Regions from separate parts of the Homo sapiens genome. Here all the other regions are linked to region 2. The links come from fine-mapping of genetic effects on gene expression. A gene starts in region 2. Each other region holds a variant in brackets. All regions are shown on one strand. Distances are between the middles of the regions.

The links. PIP is the estimated chance that this variant, and not a neighbour inherited with it, causes the effect.
Region 1: its variant is fine-mapped to the expression of C20orf203 in testis (GTEx, PIP above 0.99).
Region 3: its variant is fine-mapped to the expression of C20orf203 in ovary (GTEx, PIP 0.97).

Annotation. Positions count from the first base shown.
Region 1 is chr20:32,623,988-32,628,224 of GRCh38, forward strand. No RefSeq gene overlaps it. Among named protein-coding and RNA genes, the nearest start is that of NOL4L-DT, 39 kb to the left of the region's middle. RefSeq lists a silencer at 3,336-3,405. The variant G/A (reference allele first, on the strand shown) is at 2,445.
Region 2 is chr20:32,671,718-32,675,954 of GRCh38, forward strand. It overlaps C20orf203 (chromosome 20 open reading frame 203), which reads right to left and starts at 2,224. Exons shown (of 6, transcript NM_182584.4): 1 at 1,915-2,224. RefSeq lists enhancers at 472-971, 2,922-2,991, 3,843-4,237.
Region 3 is chr20:32,630,685-32,634,921 of GRCh38, forward strand. It overlaps C20orf203 (chromosome 20 open reading frame 203), which reads right to left. Exons shown (of 6, transcript NM_182584.4): 6 at 941-3,586. Among named protein-coding and RNA genes, the nearest start is that of C20orf203, 41 kb to the right of the region's middle. The variant T/C (reference allele first, on the strand shown) is at 2,469.

The DNA of each region.
Region 1 (4,237 bases), 48 kb before region 2:
TGCACACTTGAAGGTCGCTGCCACCACGAGCAAGGCCTTCTGCCCTTGGCCTGTTAGGGGCCTTGGAGACTCTGGAGAAAACCCCCAGTGGCACCACTGGGCCCAAGAGCCACCAGCAGCCAGCGCCATTGTCGCCACTGTGGGTTAAGAACTACCCTCCCTCTACTGTGGGTTAAGAACTACCCTCCCTCTCCCACTTACCTTTTAAAAAATGCCTATAATTTTACAAAGGAGAAAATGTGAAGTCTTTTTTTTTTTTGAGACCGAGTCTTCCTCTCTCCCCTAGGCTGGAGGGCAGTTTGGACGATCTTAGCTCACTACACCCCCACCTCCCGGGTTCAAGCGATTCTCCTGCCTCAGCCTCCTGGGTACCTGGGATTACAGGCACCCGCCACCATGCTCGACCAGAAAATGTGGTCTTTTACATATCAAGGAAATAGTAACTGGCTGGAAAGCAGGAAAGAGCATCAACTCCCTATTAGACTCATCGGAGCCGAACTCCCTGTTAGACTTATCGGACCCGAACTCTGATCTTGATCTGCACTTCAACCAGTGGCCTCAGCCCACTCCCCTGGTCTTGCATTTGTCTCACTGTCTCCCCTAAAGACATCCCTTCCTCCCCTTCACCAAGCATGTCCCCCTTGGGGTCAGCCCTCGCCTGGACTATTGCAGTAGCCTCCAGGCTAGTCTCAGCTACCCTGTACACCCTCCAAATAGGCCACAGAGTCTTTGTCTCAAACACAGGCCAGACCTCCTGCCCTTACTCAAAACCCTACCATGGGCCTCTGGTGGCCCCAGGATTAGGTCTTGACACCCTAGTCTGGCCTTCAGGATCCTTCCTGTTCCAGCTTGGCCTGTCTCTCCAACCCACCCCTTACCACCCCCTGGGTCATTAAGAGCATAGGCTTTGTAGTTGCTGTGTGACCTTGGGCAAGTTACTTAACTTATCTGAACCTTGATTTCTCATCCATGAAAGTGAAATAGGTCTCTGCCACAAGGGGAGCAGGGTTTCAATTGTGCGATTCCAATAATCTCATGTGTGTAGCACTGGACTAGGATATACAGTGGGTGCTCAATAAATGTAGCTATCCTTATTTGTCACTACCCCATGAAACGACTAAAAATCTCCCACAGCATACTCTGCGGAGCCTATGCAGATGCTGCGTCCTCTGCCTCGGCAGCCTAGTGAACTCCTATTAATCCTTCAACACCCCTCTCAGGCAATGCCCTGACTGGCCTGGTGTCAGCTGTCCTTTCTCAGAACCCTCCTCCATATTGGCCAGATTGCTGCACTAGAATTCTTCCCTTTACTTGTCAGTCTTCCACCATATGACTGTGGGTTCCTAGGGGCAGTGGCTATAAATGACAAAACTGAGCCAGCCAGGGAGGGCTGGGGTGATGAGGGAAGGGGTATGAGACAGGAAGGAGGGAAAGGTGGAGGGAGAGAGGCTCTGTGGTTGGCCAAGGCAGAATAAAGCTTTCATTCAATCATTTGTTCATTCACCCATTCATTCAACACATGCATACTGACCTACTCTATTTAAAGCCCCTTGCTAGCTTTCCCCAGCTTCTAGAATCACTCCAAAATCTCTCGGCCAGGTGCAGTCAAGTATTTTGGGAGGTCGAGGTGGGAGGATCGCTTGAGTCCGGGAGTTCGAGACCAGCCTGAGCAACATGGCAAAACCCCATTTCAAAAAAAAATACAAAAATTAGCCAGGTGTGGTGGCGCACACCTGTAGTCCCAGCTATCTGAGAGGCTGAGGCGGGAGGATCACTTGAGCCCAGAAAGTTGAGGTTGCAGTGAGCCGAGATCGTGCCACTGCACTGCAGCCTAAGTGACAGAGGAAGACTGTCTCAAAAACAACCCTGTCCTCCATGGGTGGCCCTCGAAGCCCCAGGAACCCAGTCCTCCCCAGTGGACCGCTCCACCCTCAGTCTCCCTGTCCCTTTCTGTCCCTCCCTGTGCTCCAGGACTCTGGCTCCCCTTTGGTTCCTCAAGCAAGACCACCTTCTAGAACGCCCTTCTTCTGACCTTTCCAGGACGACCCCCAGGACAGGCCCCTATCACTCTGTATAAACAGGGTCTCACCCCCACAGCGCGGGTTCCGCCTCAGTCCTGTGTCTCCTACCTCATTCTCACCCAGCCCACGCCCAGACGCACTTGTGGGATCAGGGGATTAACACCCACCTTCTCAGTAGGCTGCGAGCTTCCCACTTCCCAGCATGCCTGTGGTGACTAGCGCCCACCCGGAGCGCCCCAGGAGACCAGAGCCAAAAGGGACCTTGGTGAGCATCGAGGTCCGCCCCCACGTGTTGTAACAACAATAATAAAAAATAATATTTCCAACAACAACAGCAGCAGCTAACACTGCCCACGTGCCAGGCGTTTCGCCTTCCGTGCAGTTTCCTCGAATCCACGCAACAACCCCATACAGAGAGCTCCA[G/A]TTCCATCCCCATCTTACAGAGGAGAAAACTGAAGCTGGGCAAGGCTGGCCAGGCCCCTGGGTTGCAGGCCCTGCACTCTTCGGTCACCACTAGGCTGTGCTGCCAGATGACCATGGTGGCAACACTGGACGGGGTTGGGGCTCCACAGACTTGAGCTCTGTGATCCCAAACAAGTCCTAGACCTTTCTGGCCTCAGTCTCCCCATCTGGAAAATGGAGCTAACCACAGTCTCTTCATCAGACTGAATGTTCACAGGAGGGAGGGACTGTCAGGGCTTCCAAGTACAGAGAGAGGGGACGGGTACCATGAGGGCAGGATTATGGGGGTCCCCAGGGCCTCCCCCACAGGTAAAGCCCCACCCAAAGCCAGTTCTGCCCAAGGCCTGCTCCAAGAGGACCCCTGCAAGGCAGGGTGAGTGGAGTCCTCCCTGGGGAGTGCCCAGTGCCCACACACTCCCTTCTAGAGAAAGAAGACAGCACTGTGCACAATGAGACCAGGGGACCCGGGGTGTGTGGGGGCCACCAGGTGGGGCACAGCACACCCTCCACTGAACCCTGAGCCATGGGGACCCTGAGCGCTCCCAGCCCTCCTGACACCTGCTTCCCCTTGCCACATGGGCCCTGGCAGTGGGAATGGGGCGTCTGCCGGAGCCTCTCCTGGGCTGTGCCAACCTCCCTATGCCCAGACAAAGCCCCCCTCCCCCGGCCTCCGGGGAAGGGGTGGGCCAGTGAGGGAGCTGACAAAGGGAGCCAGTGGGGCTGTGCCTGGGGCTCGTGCCACCCCACTCCCCGACCTGCCCACAGTGCCCACATCCCCCTCCTGCCACTTGGCCGGCTGGGGCGCCCGGCACCGTTGCTATGGCGGCAGCTCTGGGGAAGCTGCAGCTGGGTAATTATTGCGAACATCCATCCTGCCTCCAGCCCGCCCCAAGAGCCGGGCAGCGAGCAGCGGGGCCAGGGCAGCCCCTCCTCACCCGCCGGGCAGCCGCACCCTGGCCTGGCACGATGCCTGCCCGAGGTACAGTGGGGAGGACAGCCATGCAGGCTGCTGCAGCAGACAGGAGCCAGCCCAGGGGCTGGCCAGGAAACCCCCACTTTCGCCCTGGCCCCCCAGCCCTGGGCCACCCTTGGAGCTGACCGGCCGGCCCAGAACTTATTTTTTCCAGCTATAATACACACACCAAACCAGCCAGAGAACCTCCTTTGTTCAAACAGAATCCTTCCTCTGCCGTTTTGGGGGCAGTGGAAGCCAAAGCAGCCAGAATGGGCTCTGGCCTGTCACCTAGGGACGGTCCCCTCGATGAGGCGGTTCCCCTGGGGCCCCACTGTGGGCCCCGCCACCTCCTCAGCCTCAGAAGCTCGCCTTGGCCCTGGTGTCTAAATATAGCTCTGCCGGGCCAAGCCTGAGGTCTCACACTCCCAACTGCCCCGGGTGGCCGGGGGAGGAGATTCATTCAGGCCTCGAGAGAGCATTTCAGGAGCCACTTAGGGCTGAGCTCAGGGCCCCCACTGTGACGCAGGTGTGCCTCTGCCTGTGGGGCTTGCGGACCCCCTCAGGAGACACACAGATATGATTTTGAGTAGCTAACTCGATCGAGAAAACACAGACCAGGACTCCCCTCGCCCAGCCTGGAAGCAGGATGCGTCAGGGCGGGAGGGAAAGGAAGGGGTCTAGGCTGGGGAGGGGAGGCACCAAGGGGAGAGAGAGGAAGTGTGGTCTGGCGCTGGAACAGATTTGTGTGGTAGAATGTGGGGTGCGCCCCAGCAGGACATGGGCTAGGGAGCAGTGGCCG
Region 2 (4,237 bases):
AATCCCAGCTACTCGGGAGGCTGAGGCAGGAGAATTGCTTGAACCCAGGAGTTGGAGGTTAAGGTGAGCCGAGATCGTGCCATTGCACTCCAGCCTGGGCAACAAGAGTGAAACTCTGTCTCCAAAAAAAAAAAAAAAAAAAAAAAATAGTAGAATGGGGGTTGGGTTGCCAGGGGCTGAGGGGGAGTGGGGAACAGAGAGTTGCTGTTCAATGGGTATAGAGTTTCAGTCACACAGATAAAAATGTCCGGAGGTCTTCTGCACAACATTGTGGTTATAGTTAACAATACTGTAGCGTGCACTTAAAAATTTAAGAGGAGCCGGGGCAGTGGCTCACGCCTGTAATCCCAGCACTCCGGGAGGCCAAGGCAGGCGGATCACAAGGTCAGGAGTTCGAGACCAGCCTGACCAACACAGTGAAACCCCATCTCTACTAATAATACAAAAAATTAGCTGGGCATGGTGGTGGGCGCCCAGTAGCTATTACAGTAGCTAGCTGTAATCCTAGCTACTTGGGAGGCTGAGGCAGGAGAATCGCTTGAACCCAGGAGATGGAGGTTGCAGTGAGCCGAGATCCCACCACTGCACACCAGCCCAGGTGACAATGCAAGACTCTGTCTCAAAAAAATAAAATAAAATAAAATAAATACACACACATAAAATATATTACATATATATTATACATACATACATACATACATATGTATTAGCTGGGTGTGGTGGCGCATGCCTGTAGTCCTAGCTACTCAAGAGGCTGAGGCAGGAGGACTGCTTGAGCCTAGAAGGTCAAGGTTACAATGAGCTATGATTGCATCATTACACTTCAGTCTGGGTGACAGAGCAAGACAATATCTCCAAAAAAAAAAAAATACTTCTTCAATTTAAATAGCTTTAGTTTTGTGGGAAAAACCAAGAACCACAGTGTGCCTGTCTCTATTTCTTGCTCTTGTTCCCTTTTATTCCCTCCTGAATTTCTCACCACACCAGGCCTTTTTGTTCTGGGACTCTTCCTCCTCTACCCTCCCCACTCCCTCCCCTGCCTCCCCCAAGCTCACAGCATTTCACACAGTTCCAGAAAAGTGCTTCTCTCCCTGACTGCCACCTGGCCCTGCTGTCTTCCCACAGGGCTGTGGGCTCCGGCAGCAGAGACCTTTTCCTACTCCCTGTGCCCCTGCATCTAAACAGACCCAGCATAGGAGAGGGGCCTGGTGAAGATGGCTGGTAGGAAGGCACTAGACTCGGGCTTTGAGAGCCAGAAGGCCTCAGGGAGTGAAGAATATGGGACTGGCAGGATCTAGGGGCTGAAATGAGTGGCCATAAAAGAAGCCCCCTCAAGACCCAAGACTCCTTGGTAGTAAGGGCTGGGCATCTCTCTGTGTCCCACCTCACACCCTGGGGCGGGTGAGGAGAGGAAGTGGAGGGGTTGCAGGGTTGGGGGAACAAGCGACAAGCCCGCCCTCCTGAGGAGCCCCAGGGCTGGTACAAACGGCAGGAAGAGGCTGAGCTGGGCCCCTGGAGCCACAGAGGCAGGAGGGAGTGAAGAGGCCCTGTGGCTGCCATGGGGGACAGTCCAGCAGCCTCCTCCTGCTCCCCTCAAGACTGGCCGGAGGTGTCTCAGCCCCCGTAGCCAACCACAGAGAGAGCACAGGGCGGAAGTGGCTGGCGCCTCAGCCATAGCTGCCGGAGATGGGCTCAACGGCCACACGGTCCCCACATTCGGGGAGCCTCACCGCAGCCCCGTGGGCACAGAGACCCAGGTGGAGCTCCAAGGGACACATGAGGCACAGGGAGTCTAGGGCAGCAGCTTCAAAACCACACACTGGTCTTTCTGCTGGCTTTTTTGGTCACCATCCCCTGCTTAAAACCCCAGGGTCACCCCACACTTTCAGCACAGACAGGCTGCATTCCACCCACCTGCAGGCTCCTCTGCCCGGCATTCATCTGTGCCACCTGCCCCGGCCATTTGGCTCCGACTGCAATGACACGTTTGTCTGGGAGATTCTTCAAGGGCACATAAAACATATCTGCCTTTGCTCACTGTGATGTCTCCGACGCAAAGCAGAGAGCCCGCCAGCGTAGCCACTCAGAGCTGAGTGGTGGTGGAATGAGTGAAAAGGCTGCAGCTGGAAGGGCTGGGAGGCGGGGGGCAGAGTGGGGGCAGCCAAGGGTTTTGGGGATCACACAGGCTTGGGAAGAAAAGTCAGCTCAGACCCACTGGCTATGTGACCTGGCCCTGCAGGTCCAACTGTCAATGGGTCTAACCCCGCCCACCTCAATGATCTGTGAGAGCTGAGCGGGGGAGACACTGTTCAGAAAAGACTGGGTCCCTGAAACTGTTGTTGTCGTTTAATCCAGCCATTTTTTTTAAGTTTGTTTAAGAGACAGGGGTCTCCCTATATTTCCCAGGCTAGTCTTGAACTCCTGAGCTCAAGCAATCCTCCCACCCTGGCCTCCCAAAGTGCTGGGATTACAGGCGTGAGCCACCGTGAGCTTGGCCCCAGCTCTTTCATTTATGGACAGGACATTTCAGGAGAGGGATCCATCCAGTCTCATCTTGGTGTTTAATATTTAAATGCACCAAAAATGGGGTGCCAATTGGTGCCAACTTTTTGGAAAGAGACTTTGATGTAATCTGCCTAAAAGTAAAATGCTCATGTTCAGCAACTCAGCCCTTCAGCTTCTAGGAATTTTGTTCTGCAGGGAAAAAAAAATGCTGTATTTGTATTATTAATATTGTTACTGGGTGGCAGGGGGAGGAAAGTATTCAGTGTTTTCAGAACCACCCACCAGGAGGCGCTTTTGCATCAGGGGCCCAATCAGGTTAGCCCAGAGCACCTGGATTTAAGTAGCAAAAACAAATGACAATCTCTAGCCCAATGTCTCAAGAACATTCCAGTCTTTTACTTCATCTCACCCTCGAAACTTCCTTTTTTTTTTTTTAGACAGAGTCTCACTCTGTCACCACGGCTGGAGTGCAGTGGTGCAATCACAGCTCACTGCAGCGTCGACCTCCCAGACTCAAGCAATCCTCCCACCTCAGCTTCCTAGGTAGCTGGGACTAGGTGCACATCACCATGCCTAGCTAATTTTTGTATTATTATTTTTTTTTTTGTAGAGATAGGGATCTTGCCATTTTGCCTAGGCTGGTCTTGAACTCCTGGGCTCAAGCAATCCTCCTGCCTCGGGCCTCCCAGTTCTGGGATTACAGGAGTGAGCCACTGCGCCTGGCCATGACCAAAACTTTTATTAGAGACAGTATCTACTTGCTTGGTGCCCTCTCTGCCCTTCCTCCTAAAGAATCCCCCTTCAAAAGGAAAAAAAGGCCATTCAAATTTGAGAGAGACTCAGGGGTCCAGAGTAAACTAAGTTAAATGAAATCAAACCTGGACCGTGGGCTTCAAGTGTGTTATTAACCCCCTCCCTCCTGTCCTGCTGCATCCTTGGCTCTGCCCTTTCACTTACGTCCACGTCTCTAAACCCAGCCGTTCTTCCTTCTCCCTTGGGTCTCTGTGTCTTCTGTCTGCCTCAGGTGTCCTTCCACACGCTACCCACCCGCCTAGGGAATACTCCTTCTGAGTTCCTGGGCAAACCACCCAGTTCTCCTCCTGAACCCTCCCCCAAAAGGCTCCCTGCACGTTCCATCTCATGAGGGCCAGGCTGTGCCCAGGTGAGGACACTCATCACCTCCACTTTTCCCATCACACTGGTGTGTGGAGCGCCCACCCCACCTGGGATGTAGAGGGATGCTCCTTGCCCAGCAGTGCTTCTCCCTGGGCCTCAGTTTCCCAGTCTAGGGTACCCCCACACCTCTCTCAGCTTGGGCGTGCTGTACTTTACCCCATGTCAGCAGTTCTCATTAAGCTAGTCTTTAAAGGAGGAAAAAATAATTTTAAAAAATCTTCCTTTGTTCTGGCCTCCGGTCTATTTACAATGACAGTTCATGAGGAACTGGGTTCTGAGCGAAAACAAACAAAATGCCTCCATTTTAGAAGGGGTAAGGTCTGGAGGGGAAAGAGGGAGATAGGAAAGAACCTGTGGTGGCCTATCCTCTCCCCGTGACAGGAAGGCCTTTGAACAACACAATTCTGATTGTGCTGTTGCTACCTCATTTCAAATCCTTCCCCCTGCCCCACCCTCCAGAAGCAGCACCTGGCATGGTAGGCAAAGCCCCATCAGCTCTGGCCTGCACGACTGGCGCTCCAGCTTTGGCTGTCCTCCCGCAGCCCTGGGATCCCTA
Region 3 (4,237 bases), 41 kb before region 2:
GGTGGCTCACGCCTGTAATCCCAGCACTTTGGGAGGCCGAGACGGGCAGATCACTTGAGCCCAGGAGTTTGAGGCCAGCCTGGACAACACGGTGAGACCCCCCATCTCTACAAAAAAAAAAAAATACAAAAATTAGCCAGGCCTGGTGGTGTGTGCCTGTAGTCCCAGCTACCTGGAGGCTGTGGTAAAAAGATTACTTGGGCCTGGGAAAGCAAGGGTGCAGTGAGCCGAGATCACACCACTGCACTCCAGCCTGGGGAACAGAGTGAGACCCTGTTTGAAAAAAAGAAAAGAGGAAAGGAAGGAAGGAAGGGAGGAAGGAAGGGAGGAAGGGAGGGAGGGGAAAAAAAAATAGCCCGGGTGCGGTGGCTCACACCTGTAATCCCAGCACTTTGGGAGGCCAAGGCAGAAGGATCATTTGAGCTCAGGAGTTCATGACCAGCCTGGCCAACATGGTGAAACCCCGCCTCTACTAAAAATACAAAAATTAGCTGGGTGTGGTGGTGTGCACCTGTAATCCCAGCGACTTGGGAGGCTGAGGCATGAGAATCGCTTGAACCTGGGAGGCAGGGGTTGCAGTGAGCCAAGATTGAGCCACTGCACTCCAGCCTGGGCAACAGAATGAGTCTCTATCTAAAAAAAAAAAAAAAAAAAAAAAAAGAAAAAAAGAAAAAGAAAAAGAAAGCATCTTGCAGAACAAAACATACAGAATGTTACTACTCACGTGAGACGCATACCTAAACACAATATGCACATCTAAACAGATATAAATATAGATAGTCTAGGTATAGGTGTTGGTACAGGCACGACACAGGCATAGGTAGTGGCATAGGTATAGTTACAGATATTGGTATAGGTATTGGTATAGGCATGGCATAGGTATAGGTATATACACTGACCAGCTGACAACAATGGTTTAAACAGAATGGGGCTCAGGAGGTAAAGAGGAATTACATGGCCTTTTATTCACTACATTTTATTAATGTTTGAGATTTTACAATGAGAATATTTTCCTGAAATATTCGTCTGATGCTAAAAATTAAAGAAGAAAAGCAGCTGGCCACATGGCTGGGAGCCTGAAGCAGGGCTCAGTCTGGGCGCTCATAAGAGGCAGGGTCTGTGGGGGTCAGGCCTGTTTGGTAGTCTCAAGCTACATCTGGAGACTCTTCCTAAATCCACTGTGGCTCCCTCTCCCCAAGGCCAGAGCCAGAGAGAGCTGGTTTCCACAGCAGCAGTAGCATACGCAGGTCCCTGCAATCTGGAGGTATGTGACACCGGGACATTTACCCTGTGCGGTGGGCCCACCTCTGCCACCTCTGCTCCTTGAGGCAGGGCAGGACTTCAGAATTGGCCAGAGGGCGACCTGAGACATGCAGGCAGAGAAGGGAGCCAGTGACCTCTAGGACCCCCAGGGCTTAGGCAGGATGCCGCGTGGAACCCAGAGCAGTCTCCCCAGCCTGGGCTTGCATTTGAGCCTCACAAATACCGCACTGGGGGAGGCAACAGCCCGTCTGTGCCCCTGCACTCCCAGCAGTCAGCAAGGTCAGGAGTGGGAGAGGGGAGAAGGCCTTTCATGGAGCACTCCTTAGATGCTGGGCCCTGAGCTAGACACATTTCCTACTCCCTAACTTTGGCCTTTAAATCTCGTTCAGTGAGTTCTTTTTGACACATGGAAGCTTGGGAAGTTTTTCGGCCAGCTACTGAAAACAAAGGGGTAAAATAATTCAAACAAAGCAAAGGGATGTACAGTGAAAAACAAGTCTTTTCTCCTCAGCCCCCAGTCCCCGCCCGGGAGAACCCATGTGCGCACTGGAGCACATGCACGTGTGTTCCTGCCCCCTCCTTGGTACTAACAGAAGCGCTCCCCACAAAGTGCGCTGTATCTGGCCTTTTTCACAAAAAAAACATGTATCTCAGAGCTTCTTCCACAGCAGTACACGGGACCGCCTCGTTCTTTTTCATGCCTAGAATTCCATGGCATGCAAAAGTCTTTAGTATTCATGTAACCAGATCTAGAATTCTGGCTCCATGGTTTTCTGCCTTTTCCATAGGCTTATTTCTGTTCTGCACAACAGCCCTGGGAGGCAGGTGGTCCCTGTGTTAGAGATGAGGAAACCAGGGTGACGGGATTAGTCTGTTCTCACGCTGCTGTGAAGAAATGCCCGAGACTGGGGTAATTTATAAAGAAAAGAGGTTTAATTGACTCACAGTTCTGCGTGGCTGGGGAGGCCTCAGGAAACTTACAATCATGGTGGAAGGCAGCTCTTCACAGGGCGGCAGGAGGGAGAGTGATACTGAGCAAAGGGGGAAGCTGCTTATAAAACCATCAGATCTCGTGAGAACTCACTCACTATCATGAGAACAGCATGGGGGAAACTGCCACCATTATTCAATTATCTCTACTTGGTCCTGCTCTTGACACCTAGGGATTATTAAAATTCAAGGTGAGATTTGGTGGGGACACAGAG[T/C]CAAACTATATCAGTGACTCACCATCCCAGTTTGCCTGGGACTGTGCCAGGAAAACCCTCAGTTTTGGACAAACCAGGATGGTTGGTCACCCTAAAGGTAAACTGAGGCTTGGAGGGTAAGGACATTCTCCAAGATCTTGTGGTTGATCCGTGGAGGCCTGGGATGGCCACTGAAGTCCACCTGATGGTGATGATACTCTAGGAGGACAATGATCATATAGTAAGTGTCTCCTCTGTGCCTGCCCCTTCTTCAGCCCTCATAACAGCCCCAGGAGGCAGACAACGAGGCACAGATAGAACTTGTGACAGGCGAACTGGGGTCAGATCTCAGCAGCAGGGCTTGGCTGTGTGACCACTGTGGTCAGCTCCTTCTCAGCCTCCTGTCCTGGGCCCACAGCAGACATACAACAAATGTTTGTTGAGGGGAAAAAAAGGCATGAATGAAGTATTATTATCCTCATTTTATGGGAAAAACTGAGGCACAAAGAAGCTGTCCCTGGCACAGGGTCACAATTTGAACCTGGACAGGGGCTCCAGAGCCCATGACACGTTTCCCTCTTGTAGAAGGTCCTTGTCTGTAACCTGGTGGTGCCTCCTGCCTCTGACTCCTCCGGCCAGTCGCCCTGACAGCCCCCTCACCGCGTTGCACTACCTGGTCCCCTGGTCCCAGCCTCCTTTCATGGAAGGAGGTCTTGCCGTCTGCCTCCCTACTCCTGACTTGGGGCCCCTGCTCTGAACCTTCCACCCCGTCCGCCTGGACTGGATGCTTCTCCCGGATCCTGATGCCTGAGCTTCAGCTTCCCCACTCCGGACTGTTTCATGCGTTCATTCATGTGTCCAACTCTTCACTCCTTTCCTCAACAAACATTGACTGAAATTGAAATGAGCCAGTTCTACCCCGGTGTTGGGAATTCCGAGATGAATCCAGCCTGAGCTTTGTCCTTGGGGGACACAGAAAACAACAAAGAAATGGCACTTGTTACCCAGAGACCCAGAGAGATGCAGCTCTGATGGAGATGGCGCAGGCACGGGCTGCTGGGGCTTGAGTTCAGGGGTTGGGGGGAGGTTCCTAGCCTGGGGGCTCTGGAAAAGCTTCCTGGAGAAGGTTATGCTGGAGTCTGGAAAGATAAGAAAGAATTAGCAAGACAGGCATTGGGAGGGGAGGCGAGAGGTACTGTGACATCATGGACAAAGCGGTGGAAGACAGCGTGAGACATTCAAGAAGTGCACGTTGTTCCTTACAGCTGGGTCCAAGCTGTCCTCAGGTGTGGACGCGTGGCTCTAGGAAGCCCAGCACCCTCCCGAGTACCTAGCCAGCTCCGGGCCCAGCAGGGCTTCCGAGAATTTCATGTCCAGAAATTTATCAGAAAAAAACACAACAAAACAATCAGCAATGTGGACATGAAGTTACGCAGGACGGAGGATGTTTACTGCGGTGTTTTTATCACAGAAAACGAGTGAAACAGCCTCTGTGCCCAGCCACGAGAAGGGGCCACACTTGTCAAAGGGCCACCACCGGCTGGAGTCATCCAAAAGGCTGAGGAGTCAGATTTCAGAGACTACTTAAAGGCACCAGACAATGCATCTGATGTAACTGTAGGTAAAAGACAGCAAGAGGCAAACTATTTTTTATTAGGAGACCTACATATGCATATATATATATATATGAAATGATATTAGGAAGAAATGTGTCAAATGCTTCACAGTGGTTATCTCTGGTGATGGACTAACCTGGGGGTTGTAGTTCCTTTTTAAAAATAATTTCAGCC